Regions from separate parts of the Homo sapiens genome. Here region 2 is linked to region 1. Evidence: fine-mapped expression QTL. A gene starts in region 1. The other region holds a variant in brackets. All regions are shown on one strand. Distances are between the middles of the regions. Region 1 holds the start of PVT1 (Pvt1 oncogene). Region 2 overlaps PVT1 (Pvt1 oncogene).

The links. PIP is the estimated chance that this variant, and not a neighbour inherited with it, causes the effect.
Region 2: its variant is fine-mapped to the expression of PVT1 in whole blood (TOPMed, PIP above 0.99).

What each region holds. Positions count from the first base shown.
Region 1 is chr8:127,790,840-127,799,518 of GRCh38, reverse strand. PVT1 (Pvt1 oncogene) reads right to left here and starts at 4,995. Exons shown (of 9, transcript NR_190187.1): 1 at 4,785-4,995. MIR1204 (microRNA 1204) reads right to left here and starts at 3,557; the gene lies at 3,491-3,557. RefSeq lists enhancers at 3,520-3,859, 3,960-4,009, 3,731-4,302, 4,303-4,872, 6,015-6,585 and silencers at 4,990-5,149, 5,160-5,219, 5,240-5,289.
Region 2 is chr8:127,988,519-127,997,197 of GRCh38, reverse strand. It overlaps PVT1 (Pvt1 oncogene), which reads right to left. Exons shown (of 9, transcript NR_190187.1): 4 at 7,907-8,036. Among named protein-coding and RNA genes, the nearest start is that of MIR1206, 16 kb to the left of the region's middle. RefSeq lists enhancers at 528-617, 3,902-4,401, 4,107-4,436, 4,402-4,903. The variant C/T (reference allele first, on the strand shown) is at 3,860.

The DNA.
Region 1 (8,679 bases):
ACTTCCACACCATGTCAAGCTGTCTCATATCTAAAAAGATAATGACTGTTGACTGTGTATCTTGTTTCCTTGAAGACAAAGCAGTTCTTTCTTTATTTTTTAATTTTTATTTTATTATTTTTTACAGAGACAGAGTCTCACTCTGCTGCCCAGGCTGGTCTCAAACTTCTCAGCTCAAGCAATCCTCCTGCCTCAGCCTCTCAAAGTGCAAAAATTATAGGCATAAGCCACCATGCCGGGCTGAAGCAGCAGCTCTTGACAGCCACCTGATTCAACAAAGTACCAGGGCTGTGTTGGGCACTTAGACGCCCCTGTTCTCAAGAATTTCACAGTCAGTGATAATAAAGAGGCAGATAAACAAAACAATATGCCATACCTCCCCCCCCACCTAACTCCACACACACACAAAAAGGAAAAGATAAAGGAAAAAAAAAACAGATAGTTCGGAATTTCGCAATTAAAAAATGAATAAGACCATTTCCACATCATGTATATGTCTTGTGTTTTATGACCTGACATTGTTTTTGTTTTTAATTAAATCCTGAAACCTAGTTTTGGTCACAAAATCCAGTGCTATACCTGATTGCAGCCTCTTGCAAATGATTATAGATTTTGCACAAAGACCGAGGCGGTTGTTTGTTTTTTGAGACAAAGTCTTACTCTATCTCCCAGGCAGGAGTGCACTGGCAATCTCAGCTCACTGCAAACTCCGTCTCCCGGGTTCAAGAGATCTTCCTACCTCAGCCTCCCGAGTAGCTAGGACTACAGGCGTGTGCCACCACGCCGGGCTAATTTTTTTTTTTTTTTTTTTTTTGTATTTTTAGTAGAGACAGGGTTTCACCATGCTGGCCAGGCTGGTCTTGAACTCCTGACCTCAGGTAATCTACCGGCCTCAGCCTCCCAAAGTGCTGGGATTACGGGTGTGAGCTACTGCACCCAGCCAAGACTAAGGGTTCTGACCTCTACCCATGACTCCTGCCCACACCCACAGCCCAAACTTTCCAGCATGGCAGCCCTCACCTAAGGCCTCTTGGCCCCTTTGTCTCTGACTGCTCCGTGGCTGCAGAAAAGGTCGGCAGGCAGAGCATGAGGTATCTTCATGCAAGATGTTCAGCTTTCTGTTTGTGCCTAAGGTGCACGGTGAGGGTGGGGGACACACTGTGTTCTCCTGCTCAAGGCCAAGGGGTATACCCTTTTCTTGTTGTTTTTTTTTTGAGACTGAGTTTTGCTCTTGTTGCCCAGGCTGGAATACAATGGTGCGATCTCGGCTCCCGGCAACCTCCGCCTCCCGGGTTCAAGCAATTCTCCTGCCTCAGACTCCCAAGTAGCTGGAATTACAAGTGTGCGCCACCATGCCCGGCTAATTTTTTGTATTTGTAGTAGAGACCGGGTTTCACCATGTTGGCCAGGCTGGTCTCGAACTCCTGACCTCAGGTGATCCACCTGCCTCAGCCTCCCAAAGTGCTGGGATTACAGGTGTGAGCCACCGCGCCCGGCCCTTTGCTTGTTCTTAACCTCATTATCCTCTAACTTCTGAGAGTCACACTAAGAAGTCGAAGACTGTGGTCCAAATCTCTACAGCTCTGCCTCTCCCAAGCTGTGTGACCTGGGAGGATATTTTTAACCTCTCTGGGCTGTGGGTTCCTCATCTGCAAAACCACAACAATAATCATCCTATTTTATAGGAAAGTTAAATGAGATCATATAATTTGAAGTGTTAGAACCAACCCTGCCCCACAACAAGAAGTCTACCATTGCTAGACATTTCATTATAAATGCCTCATGGAGTTGTAGGGAGTAGAAGGTGAAGAACATGCTTTGCGTGATAAACAATGTCCATGTTATACATGCACTATTATTGTTCTTATTATTAATTGTTATTTATTACCGTTATTAGTTCCTTAGATTATTTGAGGTCAGAAAACAGAAGAGACAAAGGGGGCTCCTGCCAAAGGACCCATTTTGGCAGCATTCCAAAAGGCCTTGAATTTCTGAGACTCTCTAGGGATGATATTGAAGTGACTGTCCACAGGACTCAATGGTCCAAATGATTCCAGATTGTTGCTCTGTTCCCATCCTCAGTCAGGGTCCCACCATGGACACTGGGAATATAAATTGGGGTGGGGGGTGTGGTCCTGATCCCTCAAAGAGATCACAAACCTGCATCAGGAAACAATAAAAAGCAAAACAAGGCCGGGTACTGTGGCACCTGTAATCCCAGTACTTTGGGAGGCCGAGGAGGGCAGATCACCTGAGGTCAGATGTTCGAGACCAGCTTGACCAATCTGGAGAAACTCCGTCTCTACTAAAAATACAAAATTAGCCAGGCATGGTGGTCCATGCCTGTAATCCCAGCAACTTGGGAGGCCTCCCAGCATTTTGGGAGGCCAAGGCGGGCGGATCACCTGAGGCTGGGAGTTCAAGACCAGCCTGACCAATCTGGAGAAACTCCGTCTCTACTAAAAATACAAAATTAGCTGGGTGTGGTGATGCATGCCTGTAATCCTAGCTACTTGGGAGGCTGAGGCAGGAGAATCGCTTGAACCTGGGAGGCGGAAGTTGCAGTGAGCTGAAATCCAGCCATTTTACTCCAGCCTGGGCAACAAGAGTGAAACTCTGTCTCAAAAAAAAAAAAAAAAAAGCAAAACAAGAGAAAAAGAAGAATCTTATGTCTGCAGCCAACTATGAAAGGAAATGCAAAATAAAAAGGCCACACATCCAGAAGGGCCACCTGATATAAAACAAATAGCAAAGGGGCAGCCATCAGCAGGCCTGCCACTGCCTCTCCAGACGACCTGGACCGGCAACTATCCAAAGTCTTCCACTTCCCCCAGATATTCTGCCAATACTCTGCCCAAATGCAGGGCCACTCACACAAACAGGAGGAAAGAACAGGGTGTCTTATAGTCCAGGAGATCTCTTGACAAAGCTGCCAGAGAAACGTGTCCATCTTGGGCAGGCAGAAGGCCCAGGCATGGCAAACACAGGCTCCAGAATCCAGCCAGAGTGCCTGCCTACCGCTCAGGAGGCGGAAAAAAAAAACAACTAAAGAACAGGGAATTGATTTGATGTGGGCAGTGAGAATTCACCAGGTTTTCAGACCAGCAATCATATAAACTAGTGGGGATCAGATATGTCAGAACAGAGGGGAGAACTCCTCCTTTCCAGTGCAGAAAAGCTCCAGCCACAGAAACACAGCATGGAGGTGGCGAGGGGCGGGGGAAGGTGTTTAAGACAGAGGAAAAGGAAAGTTAATCAGAAAAAAAACAAAACAAAACAAAAACGGACTTCTATTTTTCAAGAGAAGCCGTTTATGCAAAAATTCTGCACTCAAGATAGATGAGGCAACAAGAATAAGCCACTCTTAACCAGGCAAAACAGCAACACAACCACTTAACAAATCCCTCTGGGAATTCAATGGGTACAGCATATACCCCACAGTCATACCCGTAAGTGGAATTCCAGTTGGGCCCTTGTGCCGAAGCTTTAGACCACGAGGCACGTCCTCACCTCCAAGATGTAACTCATCTCAAATAATGGAGACCAGGCCACGAGGTTTCTCCCAGACACGGATTCTGTATTTGTCCTTCTGCAGCTTCCGGGAAGGTTTTTCTCCTAATAAATCCTGTAGAAAGTTCCACTCAGGGTTCTGAGGATTGATACAACCCCCTTCTTGACTGATCAGAGCTTTAGAAAGATTCGCTATGACCACAGGACTGTGTCAAGTTGAACAAGTCTCAACTTGTCGCTGCCAGTATGCAAAATAGGTCTGAAACATCTTATAACAGACAACACAGCAGACACAGTCCCTGCATCCTCAGGGCCCCCGCCCACCCACCACACACAAACACATTTCTCTAGAGTTTTTTTTTCCTAGCAAGGAACTAGCCCCAGTAGCCAGGATTCACAGTGGTGGAGTGGGCGAGAGACAGGCTAACAGCCTCTCTCTGGAAAACCTAATACCAGAAAGGAAACACCAAAACCTCATCCTCTTGTCCCTAAATCCTTGCACGTGATTTCTTCTCCTCTCTAATGTTCTAGAAGGGCCTAAAGTCAGGAGCTTAGATGAACAGAAGAATCTTCCATGCCTGCAAACCACCAGGAAAAGGCATGAGGCATCCACACACAGACGCATGCAGCTTCATGGCTGTGCTTCCTGAAAGTCTACACCCAGAACCACAAACACTGGCATAAATAAGAGCACGTTAGCAAGAGAAGGCAAACCTAATTAAATCAACAGCCCAGCCAAGAAGAATGACCATGATGAGGGTTTAGGAGCACCCAACAAACCCTCACATGCGATGCAAAAACTGAGAAAGTCTCAAAACACGGAGTTACTGAGTTTTTGGAAATCACCTTCGCCCAGCCCTGAGGGGGTGTGAGAGGAAGCGGGGAGTGATGGTCAAAGGATGGAGGGAGGATCACACATTCACAGACCTCTAGTTTCGCCAGAGGGGCCTCCAAACCACATCATGGCTCCAAATCTGTTCTGACTGCAGAGGGGTCTATTTTTAGAAATTAGTTAATATGCCTTTGATCAAGTTCATAAATCCAGAATTGCCTCTATGCACCGGCCATTCGGTGTCATCCCCCTCCCCTCACCCTCCCCAAACGCCCAAACTCGCCACCAGTCTTGAGGCTGGTGATGAGGACAGTGCACGCCTAGCACACACATATTGGATTCCGAAAGCCCCTTTCCTCCGTCCGACTACTCACAGCGCATCCCTACTCAGGGCCAAGTCTCGAGAGTTTCCAGAAACGCAGGGGACAAAATTGGAACTTACTGGAGGGCAGATCTGGCCGTGTCTCCACAGGTCACAGGGACCGCCAACATCCTTTCCGCAAGGAAATCCACTGGAAGGTGCCGGGGGTCCCGGGGCACATCTTTGCTCGCAGCTCGTCGTCGCCCCTCCTCGTCCCGGCCGCCCCGAGCCCGCCCGGCCCGCGGGCCCATGTGCTCGGCCGCCACACGCGCTCTGCCCGGAGGAGCGCGGGGCTGGCGGGTTGCCCGTGACGTCACGGCGGCTCGCGCTCGGGCCTCGGGGGAGGGGGGAGGCGCGCGCGGCCCGGCCCGCCGCGTGCGTCCTCGGTCCCGGCGCTCCCGGCCTTCCCCAGGTCCCCGCCCGCCGCCCGGTGCGCCCCTCAGCCTGCTTCCCGGCAGCGCAGGGCACTGAGCCGGAGAGGGCCGCGCGCGGAGGCGGGGCGGGCTTGGGCGACTGCGGCCGCCAAGGGCCCAGACTGGGGGAGCGGAGGGTAGGCTCTGCCCTGGGCTGGGGGTCCTCGCTACAAGCGCGCCGGAGTCCCACCGGGCCGGAGGGAATCCCCGGTGATGCCAGCTCGCTTGTGCGCCGAGCTTTCCACGGTCTTTCCCTGAGCCCTCTTACCCTTCCCCACACCGTCCTGGAAGCAAGCGGTCTTCCCACTTTCCTGCTGAGGAAGGCGAGTTCAGTGAAATAGGAGGGCCAGAGATGCTCCGGGATAGGTGCAGTTCCCGCAGAAGACCGCCGACTGAGCTCCAGCTCCAGTGATCTGAGCGCCTCTTTGGGTACCACCCAGCATCCGCCGGCCTGGTGAGAAGGGCGCGCGCACCTTCTCGCCTCCTTCGACGTCTCCCGCTGTTTCCAGAAGCCGAGTTGCAAACCCGTGCAGAGGGCCAGCGGTCTGCGCAGCTCCCTCCACTCCGGGCAGAGTTGACCTACAGAGTGTGTTCAACGAGTCCCTTAAATGCCCAGTAGTTCCTCCAAAGGAGCAAGTGGACACTGGCCTCCCATGTGGGATGTGGTTATCTTGTTCTATCTGCATAAACCCGAGACTGGACAGATGTAAGAGCTGCCCCTGTTCAGTTCAAAGTTTATTTTATTTATTTATTTATTTATTTATTTATTTATTTATTTAGAGATGAAGTTTCACTCTGTCACCCAGGCTGGAGTGCAGTGGCCCGATCATGGCTCACTGCAACCTCCGCCTGCCTGGTTCAAGCGATTCTCCTGCCTCAGCCTCCGGAGTAGCTGGGATCACAGGCGCGCGCCACCACGCCCAGCTAATTTTTGTAATTTTAGCAGAGACAAGGTTTCACCATGTTGGCCAGGCTGGTCTCGAACTCCGAACCTGAGATGATCCACTCGCTTCGGCCTCCCAAATTGCTGGGATTACAGGCGTGAGCCACCACGCCAGCGCCCGTCCAGTTCAACGTCTACTGAGCACTTAAGGGGAGTCAGGCACCCAGCTAGGCAATGGGGTGGGGGTTACTCATGGACCCTAGAAGGACGTCACAAACCAGCAAAAATTGGACACACAAATGGGTGGTATCAATATTACGGAACAGAAGGTTGCCCCTCTTCTCCCCTGCCGGCTACCCTACATCCTACTCACTCCAACCTACCCGGAGGCTCCTCCCTCTTTCTGTGTAGTGTTTCATCACATCTCTTCCCGTGGCGGCTTCTCAACGCAAATGTTCTTATTTGAAAAAGAAAAAACAATTACTCAGTTGATGCTCCTGTTCTGCCTGTTTCACAGATTCATTTACACTCATGGGCATCTCTTTTGTGCCTGGCTCCTTGCCAGGAGCTGGACAAGTCTCCGCTTTGTGCCTGGCTCTCTGTGAGGGGCTGGACAGGTGTCTGTTTTGTGCCTGGCTCTCTGTGAGGGGCTAGACAGGTGTCTGTTTTGTGCCCGGCTCTGAGAGGGACTGGGCAGGTGCCTGAGCTGCAGTTGGCATCTAGTTGTCATCCATCTTTTAAAATATAAAAAGAAGATGATGAGAAACCTCTGCATCTATACATCATGCGATAGGAGCTGTGAGACCTTAATCCTTTCACTGCTTAATCATTTTTTCCAGAAACCAAAGGCTGTGACCTTGAGGAAGCCAGTGTCCTCCTGGGGGATGCTGGTGGGCTATGAGAGGACCAGCTTCTAATGGCAGACGTCTCTGTCCATGTCCTGACAGTTGATGCCCAGTCCCTTCTGCATGGAAAATCTCCCCTGGCTGAAAAGACACTTTCACCCAGGACTCACTCAACTTTGACCTTGATGCTGTTTGCCCTCTCTGGGTCTCCAGCTCTCATGCACTAATCTTAGATTCACATTTTCCTTTTTATTAATTTCTTTTTTAGAATTAAAACATTTTTTCAGTAAAAATACAAAGAAAAAATAATATTTTAATATTCCTACCATCCAAAATAAACATTTTGGTATATCTGCTTTTGTTTTGTTTTGTTTGTTTGTTTGTTTGTTTGTTTGTTTGTTTTTAAATGGAGTCTTGCTGTGTTACCGGGCTTGAATGCAGCAGCTCAATCTCGGCTCACTGCAACCTCCACCTCCTGGGTTTAAGCGATTCCCCTGCCTCAGCCTCCCATGTAGCTGGGACTACAGGCGTGCGCCACCATGCCCTGCTAATTTTTTGTATTTTAATAGAGACGGGGTTTCACCATGTTGGCCAGGATGGTCTCGATCTCCTAACCTCGTGATCCACCCGCTTCAGCTTCCCAAAGTGCTGGGATTACAGGCGTGAGCCACCGTGCCCAGGCCTGCTTTCATTTTTTAAAAGTCACTTTTCTTCTTGCAAAAGTGATATTATATATATATATACACACACACACATACATACACGTTGTAAAACATTAAAACTCTGCAGAAAAAAAAATAGAGAAGAAAAACAAATTTTATCAGCCAGAAATAATTTTTCTGAATATCAGATGAGGCCTTTTTGGGCACAGATGGATACATATAGGCATAGATCTTGATATAGATATATAGATGGATGCAGGATTGACAAATAGATAGGAAAAATATTTTACAATGTTAATGTCTCATAGTTGCAATTTTTAAGAAATCTAATTTTTTTAGTAGAAGAAAAGGAAGCTAACATAAAACTAAAGGAATTGTTGTGTTTTAAATATTTATTTACCACATGAGAAGCATTGCTTTCTAAATAAGGCTACAAAGGTTCAGAAAAGATAATGAAAAGCAAGGAAAGAGTGGCATGATGATGTTTTACTTGTAGGCCTCATCATTGTAAAGTCCAGGCAACTTTTTGCTATTACATTCACACATTTTCTCACATCTCCCTTTACCTCACCTGTATTTGTTCGTTGTTTTCTGTTTTTGTTTTTGTTTTTGTTTTTGTTTTGAGACAGGATCTCACTCTGTCATCCAGACTGAAGAGCAGTGGTGCAAACTCGACTCACTGCAGCCTCCACCTCTCAGGCTCAAGCAGTCCTCCCACCTCAGCCTCCTGAGTAGGTATGTGCCACCATGCCTGGCTTACTCCCGGGCTCAAGTGATTCACCCGCCTCGGCCTCCCAAAGTGTTGAGATTACAGGCATGAGCCACTGCGCTAGCCTAGTTGTGCTATTGTCTTTCGATTACCACTTCCATTCTGTAAATGCAGTTCTCATGGTTGTTTAGTATTGGTTCTATAATTAAATAATTTTAGGCTCAGTACCAGTCTTTACCTTCTCTATATCTGCATCCTCTTTTTTTTTTTTTTTTTTTTGAGATGGAGTCTAGCTCTGTCACCCAGGCACGATCTGGGCTCACTGCAATCTCCGCCTCCTGGCTTCAAGCGATTCTCTTGCCTCAGCCTCCTGAGTGGGGATTACAGGCACCTGCCACCACACCCAGCTACTTTTTGTATTTTCAGTAGACAGGGGTTTCACTATGTTGACCAGGCTGGTCTTG
Region 2 (8,679 bases), 200 kb before region 1:
TGGTGGCGCATGCCTGTAATCTCAGCTACTGGGGAGAATCGCTTGACCCCGGGAGGCAGAGCTTGTGGTGAGCTGAGATCACGCCATTGTACTCCACCCTAGGCAACAAGAGTGAAACTCTGTATCAAAAAACAAACAAACAAAAAAAAAAAACGAAAGCAAATGACCAGTGAATGTTCCAGTTCAGTGCCCATGGGTAGAGCTGAAATCCTCAGGGTCCTGGAAGACTGATGGACAGCAATGTCAGCCTGTCCTCAGAACAGGCCACTCTGCAGAGGAAACCGAGGCTCACAAGAGCCAAGAGCCTTCTTCCCAGCCAGAGGGCTGGCAAGCAGCAAAGCAGAGAGCCAGGTTCAGGTCTCCTTTCCGGCTTCACAGAAGTGCTACCTCCCTGCTACCACTAACCCTCACACCCCCGACCCCTGTCCCCATGGCCAGTCACTTTCCCGTTTCCTCCCACAGCAGCAGGGGGCGGCGGCTGAAGACTCAGGTAAGATGCAACTCAGGGAGGATGGCACTTAGATTGGTTTCTCTTTCTTTTTTTCTTGATTCTGTCTTTATGAAACTTTGCTTTAACCCAACATTGTTTAAATCCCGACCTGGTTTCTCGTGAGCTTGAAGCCAGGGTGCCCACACTCTGCAAAAGAAGAAAAATGCCAGTATGAGTCCTTGAGGCTCAGTGTTGTTGTGCAGTCCGTGGACAGGACAATGTCCTCATTTCAAGGTTTCATTTTTGGAGGAAAAAAAATTCCTCAGGATGCAGGATGCCCTGCATCCCATAATGGGTATGCCCCCATTGAAACCAGCTCTGGGAGGGTGACCAAACTAAAAAGGAAACAGTTCCAAGCAGAAGGACACAAATTACCAGCAGAGTCATTATTACTCACAGCAATTCAGGCCCAGGGTCTATGTGGTGCAGGGTTTCTGAAAGCCGGCCTATACCTGGGAAGGAGGGAGAGAACCAGAGGCCTGGATGCTGGGTGGAGGTTCTGTGATTTACTTTGTTACAAATTTAAGAATAAAACCTGCTGGATCAGGAGCTTTTCCTATCTCCTCAAATAAACCTGGATCCCAAGAGGAACAGAAAGGAGAAAGGTGAGTGTGGGAGAGGAATTGGAGTGCAAGCTCAGAGGTCCTTGAGGGAGGGAGGAGAAGGTGTCTGCTTTGGGGAATGGCAATAAGAGGTATGTTGGGATGGAGATACCCAAATGTGTAGCACTTATACCGATTTAGCAAATGGTCCTCTCATTAGCAAAAGCTTCTAAACATTAGCCTTAAGTTTAAAAAAAAAAAGGACATTTGAAATTATGCAAAAGCCCAGAGCACCAATATGCGCTTCACATACGTTCCGCAGGAAGATTCCTTCATTTGCAAACTGGAGTATATTACGTAATCATTTCCATTTCCTGGCAGGTTGTGAAGAGTAAATGACATCATATAATGTAAAGTGCTTGAAACACCATGAATAATACATTTGAGCTATTACTATTTTTACCATGATTACTGGTAGATTAAAAGCAGTCTCTTCATGGCCATCTTGATTACTACTAGTACTAACACGACCATCACCGCAAACACTACTACTACTATAAGGATAGTACTTTATTAGCGGTGCTTAATAGAATCTATTATAATTCTCAATACTTAGCATATTTCAGGAGGAAAACTGACTGACGGACTGATATAATGCACAATTAAAGAAATGAACAAAGAAATGGATAGATTCCTATAATGTGGGGGGTGTATCTTAAAAGAAAAGCAGTCCAATAGGTTTCAAAGAGCAAAACCAGGAGTCAAGAGCTGTCTCTAATCCCAGGAGCCGGATGCTGTGAACACAGGAGTGTTCAATAAATACCTAACTGATGTCTGAGCAAGGAAGAGACAAAGAATGACAACAGTCAATTGGGCTTAGCTTAGATAAACACTCAAAGCCAGGATACAGACAGAACAGGACAAGAGTGGCTCTTACAGTCACTTGATTCAGGGTCCTTGTTTTAATGATGGGGCTGTGAAGGATCAAAGGGGTCAGCTGGGGCTCAACACTCAAAGGGCAGCTTTGGGCCAAGTCAATCAAACCAGCCTGGTGAGCTGAGATGCACGTTACCCAGTAAATACAGGTATTGGGATAGACTGTGTCTCTGCAGTGTGATGGTTAATTTTGTGTGTCAACTTGACTGGGCCACAGGATTTCCAGAGAGCTGGTTAAACAGCATTTCTGAGTATGTCCAGATGAGATTATCACTTCAACCAGGAGACTGAGTAAAGCAGATGGTCCTCTTCAATGTGGGTTGGGCCTCATTCAACCCACTGAAGGCCTGAATAGAACAGAAAGGCACAGGAAGGTTGAATTTCATCTCTGCCTGATTGCTTGTTCTGGGACATCGATCTTCTCCTGCCCTTGGCATTCCTGGTCCTCAGGCCTTCGAATCTGGACTGGAATCTACACTACAGGTTCTCCAGCCCTCTGCCCTTTGTGACACGACAGCTGTTTCCTAGGTCTCCAGCCTGCAGGTGGCAAATCACAGGACCCCTCTGGGTCCATAATTGCATGAGCCAATACCTTATAATAAATAAATCTCCTAGATATAGATATAAATATCAAGGTAGATATTGATATAGACATGGATACGCATCTATCTTCATGTTCTATTGGTCCTGTTTCTCTGGAAAGCCCTGACTAATACATCTGTATATTTTGAAGGCTTTAAAGAAGGACAAAGCTCTTTTTTATCCACTCTGTTAACTCCTCATAGCCTATCTCAGCAACTGACTCATAACAGGAAAGTGGACAAGGGCAGAGAGGACAGGAGGGAATGGCTACCTCCTGCCAGTCACCACACAAGGTGCTGGGGAGGTGGGTTCAGTGAGACCCAAGGCTCTGCTCCCAGGGAAAGTTGGAGAGATCGTGTTTCCAGGCGAGATCCCAAACACAGCCCCCATCAGCAGAACCCGTCCCACAAGAGGCACTGTAGAGAGAAAGATCCTCATTTTCAGAAGAAACAGAGCTGAAAGAAGGGACTAGGAGTGGGCAGAGGACAATGGTGGAGAAGGAGAGACAGTTGGAGAGGGGGTGAGGAGCAGCACAAGAGAGTACAGAGAATGTGCTGGGAGAACAGGCAGGCACAGGGCAGGTTTAAGGGATTCAGAAGACTCATGTCCTGATTTGGGAGCCACCATCCATGAGCAGGGGGGATCTCAAGCAATGCAATTGCTCCAAGCCTCCAGTCCCTTCATCTGTGAAATTCTGGCATCCATGAAGCTAGCTTCACTCCCTGTGATTCCTTCAGAGAAAGCACAGTGGCTTTTCTCCTTTATTCTAGGCACCCTGCACAGTGGCACACTGCAGGTTCTCGTTCGATATTTGTGCAATACAAGAAAGGAGAAAGGATGAGAAATCACTTTATAAACTGTAAAGTCCTGGGCAGATGACAGGGCTGCCTTTGTTTCTTAAGGCAGACTGGGGAGCTTCTGAAAGGGGAATACTTTCTTCCTCACTTTGCCTTTCCAGCCCCAAGTCAGTGTCCTGAATTCAGTTAACTCAAGAAAACGTTCTCCAAGCATGTCCTATGTGCTGTCAAAATGCCAAAAGCTGGAAGCAGACAGAGAACAAGACCTAGACCCTGCAATCCAGGGGAGAAGAGCTGATGTTCAGGAAAGTGAAATGCTGCTTCTGGAGACAGAATAAATCCCCCCGGAGAGAGGATAAGAATTGACTATTCTAAAGCCCAGCCTTTCCTCAAAACCATAATGATAATCATCACCCATAGTGACAGCTACGGTGGGTGGTCACCTGTGTGGCTGGCTGCTAGATGAGCTGGACTGAAAGAGACTCAGAAATGCTTTCGTTTTCAGGTGGTGG[C/T]GCAGCCACTGCTCCCCGACTGGGCCTAGTGCATTGCAGACATCACGGAGGAAGCTCCGTGTCTGTGGGTGTGACGGTGTATGATCAGTGAAAGATGTTATCAGAAGAAAAAAAGTTGGGCACATTTTCCCCTAGACTTACTAATCCTTCCTCTGCAATTACCCTCATGTTTTGACATTAATTGAACTCTGTCTTTATTACTAAAAATAAACTCCAGGGCAATTGCAATGCACCAAAAACCTCAGTATGAAACCACAAGAAACAGTAATAGAGAAATGGGCCAATACCAGAGGTGTTTTGAGAAGATGTTTCTGTTTCAAGCGTAGAGTTCCGAGTGGGCCAGGAGTTCTTTAAAATCCTGTGGACACCAAGTACAGGAAGCAATCTTTACACACATACCTTGTGGCGAAAGACCGGTGCTGGCTTGTATCCCTTGACAGGGAAGCAGGAGCCTGCTGATGCGGTGTCACCAAAGGCCAGGAGGCCAGCATGACCAGTGTGGCAGTATCAGGCAGGGAGCCAGCAGATGACACCAGGGGAAGGCAAGGCCAGAAGAGGAGTCCAAAAGAGCAAAGTGAAGGTCTAAAGGGAAGAAGCCCATCCTGTCTGCATATCCAGGGAGCAGGGCCAGGGGTGAGCAAGAATGACACTGAGAGGGTCAGGAGCTAGACAGGTCAGGAGCTGGAAGGAGAAACAAACAGGCTCCTGTTCATTGCCCATTTCCTCGGGCAAGGTTCCGTCATCCTCACAACCAGACCAAGTGGCTTCTGGTCCATGATGTGGCTGGGAAAATTGAAGTCTGGCTGGGTGTGTGGTGTGTGCCTATAGTACTAGCTACTCAGGAGACTGAGGTGGGAGGATTGCTTAAGCCCAGGGATTGGAGGCCAGCCTGGGCCACATAGCTAAGACCCTGTCTTTAAAAAAATAAAAGAAAAAAATTTGTACGTGTGTTTTGAGACAGAGTCTTGCTCTGTTGCCCAGGCTGGAGTGCAGTGGCACAATCTTGGCTAACTACAACTCTGCCTCCCAGTTTCAAGTGACTCTTGTGCCTAAGCCTCCCAAGTAGCTAGGATTACAGGCGTGTGCCACCATGCCTGGCTAATCTTTGTATTTTTAATAGAGACAGGGTTTCACCATGTTGGCCAGGCTGGTCTCGAACTCCTGGCCTCAAGTGATTAGCCCACCTCAGCCTCCCAAAATGCTGGAATTACAGGCGTGAGCCACTGTGCCTGGCAAGAAATTTTTTTCCTTTTTTTTTTTTTTTGTTTTAAGAAAGAGAGAAGTTTGAAAAGCTGTAAAAGACTTGCCCAGAGTCAAATAGGCAGTGGGAAGTGGAGCCTGGGGTAGACCCTAAGTGTCTGACTCCGTGTTCCTGGTGCCTTTGCTGCACAGCAGGCAACAGTCCCGACTCATGGGTGGGAAAGGTGAGGATGCCCTCCTATTGGTGTGCGTCCCAGCCAGGCTGATTTCTAGACAGGTACAGACAGGCAGGCTCCCAGTGTGAGAAGTGCCTTTAGGACAAGTAGAACTGCACACATAGATGCAAATGCCTGGGCCTTTCTTCAGGTTCTGTCATAGAACAGACTGCCTGAGGCCATGCTCAGGACTGCGGGCCTCAGAAACCCAGCACTTGCCCCTGCTCTGTCTTTCTGCTCCCAGCAGCTGAATTCTAGGGAAATGTCTCTCCGTCACCCCACCCCGAGACAGACCTGCCAAGCTTCTGGCTTTCAGATTCTCTGCCACATGACTGAGGTCCCATCAGCCCTTTTCCCCAATATGAGAATAGCTTGTTCCAGCCCTCCAGGTGCAGCAGGGCATGGGGATCAGCTGGAAAGGCTGCTACACCTGTATGCTCTCCTGCTCCCTAAGCCTGCCTCAGAAGCATGGGCTCCCAAGACATAATTCAGTGACTGTCCCTGAGGGTCAAAAAGAGCTACGAGGCCAAGGCGGGCAGATCACAAGGTCAGGAGATCAAGACTATCCTGGCTAACACAGTGAAACCCCGTCTCTAATAAAAATACAAAAAAAAGTAGCCAGGCGTGGTGGTGGGCACCTGTAGTCCCAGCTACTCAAGAGGCTGAGGCAGGAGAATGGCGTGAACCCGGGAGGTGGAGCTTACAGTGAGCCGAGATTGCGCCACTGCACTCCAGCCTGGGTGACAGAGCAAGATTCCGTCTCAAAAAAAAAAAAAAAAAAAAGAAAGAAAAGAAAAAAAAGAGCTACGTAGGGCTCCCAAGGAAGACTTGTCAGCTGTAGACATACATTGCAGTAGCAGAAGTGAGAAATTCAACAATGATACGAAAATGAATGCGTAATATGAATGCACAAAGGTGCTGAGCTCTAAACAATGGAAAGGATTTTTAATTACTAAACAGCAGCTCAGCTCCCAGTATGCTTTATTCACAAGCATCTTTCAAGAGTCACGAGAGGCAGCACCTGCTCCAGGAAGCCTCCCGGCATGGAGAAAATCCCCTCCACCATCCTCACAGACACCTAGGGAGTATGTAGTATCCTATGTGTGCCAGTATCCCCACCTTGACTGAAGGGCAAGGCCTCATGCTCTTCACCTCTGCATGCCACAGGAATGCTGACTATCACAGCAGATTTGAAACGCAAATGCGCTTTTGAAAATTTAAGGCACAATACAAAAGATGAAGATGACATATGTAGCACAACAGAAGTACAGTTCTCTGCTATGCTCTCAGTTCTGACTTCTCTGTCTTCTCACCAGTCCACAGCTTCTCACCCACCTTTCCACCCTTGCATAGCTTTCAAATTCATGATAGGAATCATGTCAGTTTCCTTTTCATCATGTCATTTATTCTTTCCAACATCTTACTTAAAAAAAATTGCAACTGACCTCATTCTTTCCTCTGAACCTTTAAAAACTTTCTTCTTTTGGTTACTTCTCTATCTCTTTTTCTCTCTCCTTTCAATTACTCATTCATTTGTTGTTTCACCCTCGGTCAGGCACTATGCCAGATCCTGTGATGTGTAAGACAGTCCTTGCTCTAAGCAATTTCACCAGCAATAGGGGGAATGGGCAGGGGAAGGGGCAAGGGACATTTCAACCCAGTGCAGTAGCCATGGTATAGTGGAGACATGCCTTCACTAGCCCGCTGCCGTCCAGGGGAGGGGGGAATCAACTCTGCTTTGGGTAAGGGGCTGGGCACAACTGGGAAGGTGATTCTCAGCTGTTTCCCAGGCTGACTTGGTGATAGGTGAAAGGCTGGGGGGACAGCAAATGAAAGACTTCAAAATAGCCTGATACATGGAAGGAATTCTAAATGGCATAATTGAGGAATAATTTGCAAAAACTCTCTTCCCTTTTGGAGCATTTCTTCCTCAGTGCAAGGCAGCCTGCTAAGCTGTTTTGCTCCAATATCTCACTCAACACAAACAACATCTTCATGAGGCAGGCACTAATACCATCCCTATTTTACTAATGAGGAGACCAAGGCTTTGAGAGGCTGAGTGACTTGTCCAAAATGAGGCAAGTAGCAAAACCAAGAAAACCCAAGTCTACCTGAAGCACTCAGTCTTAACCTCTAACCCTTTACCTCCTGCACCCTCAGCCTTAGTGTGGAAGGAGCATAGAATTCAAGGAGGTGAAAGGAGGAAGCACGGATTGGCTGGGAAAGGAGGAAGAGCTCATGTTCTGGATGTCCCAAAGGTGTTTCAATCTGATTATATAACCCTCACCTCACCTTTTCCTCTTTTCCCCAAGGCTGTCTCCACATGTTTTCACAAGACAGCTGGAGCATCCTGCACCTTCTGCTACAAGTGGCGCATTCACTAGGAGATGGTGGGCTCCTCCCTCCACTAGGGACAGAGGGAGAGCTTCCTAGGCACAATGAATAAGTGGACTAGACTCTGAGAACCAGGTCGGGGAGAGGTTATGGGGAGCCAGCTTCCCGAACACATTGGAGCGGCACAGGAAGACACACCGAGAGGTCAAGAACCACAACCCAAGCTGTGCTGCAGGAGGTCGTCAACTCCAAAAGCTATTTTTGGTTTCACAAGGATCAGGAAGATAAAGTCGCTTACCTTAATTCTCCAATCTCAAAATACTCCAGCTTTAGGTCACGTAAGGACAGTTCTCAAGTCCGTCCAGAGTGCTGAAAGGATATGTATTTTTTCAGATTGAAAGTGCCTAAATCCCAGGTGTAACAGGATTCTAGAAACACACAAAAAGGATACATATTAATATCAATGTTTACCTTGAATAGATTTGGTAATGAGATGTTTCATTCATTTAAAAGATAAGGACTGCACATTTACTATACACTGAATGAGGAGCACAAGAAGAGAAGACATTTAATGAGCAATGCTTATGTGGCAAGCACTGTGTTAGGCATTTTATACACATTAAACTGTTTAATCCTATGAGATAGGCTTTGATATCCCCCATTTCTGAAGTCACACAGGCAGTCAGGGCAGAAGTGATGGTTGGGTCTTTCTGACTCATAAGCCCCCACCCATTAATCATGTTTCCCTCCCCTACTAGAGCATTTTCATTCACCTTCTTCCAAGAATACTAGGTAGAGAGGAATAAGAAACACACCCAATAACCCCATTCTGAGAATAGCCTGTCCCTGGGTGCCCAGCCCATTTCATACATGGTGGGGATCATGTGAGCCATGGAGGCTGCATCAGATTAATTTTGTTGTAAGTTTTATCTGAGCCCAACACTGTCATCTAGTAACATGTGTTCAGTGGACATCATGCATTATTCAGGAAACAAAAAAATGTAGCCTCACTAGAGATTCTTATCTTAACTGATCATCAAGATGGCTAGATGAGGTGGTCAAAAGGGGTGG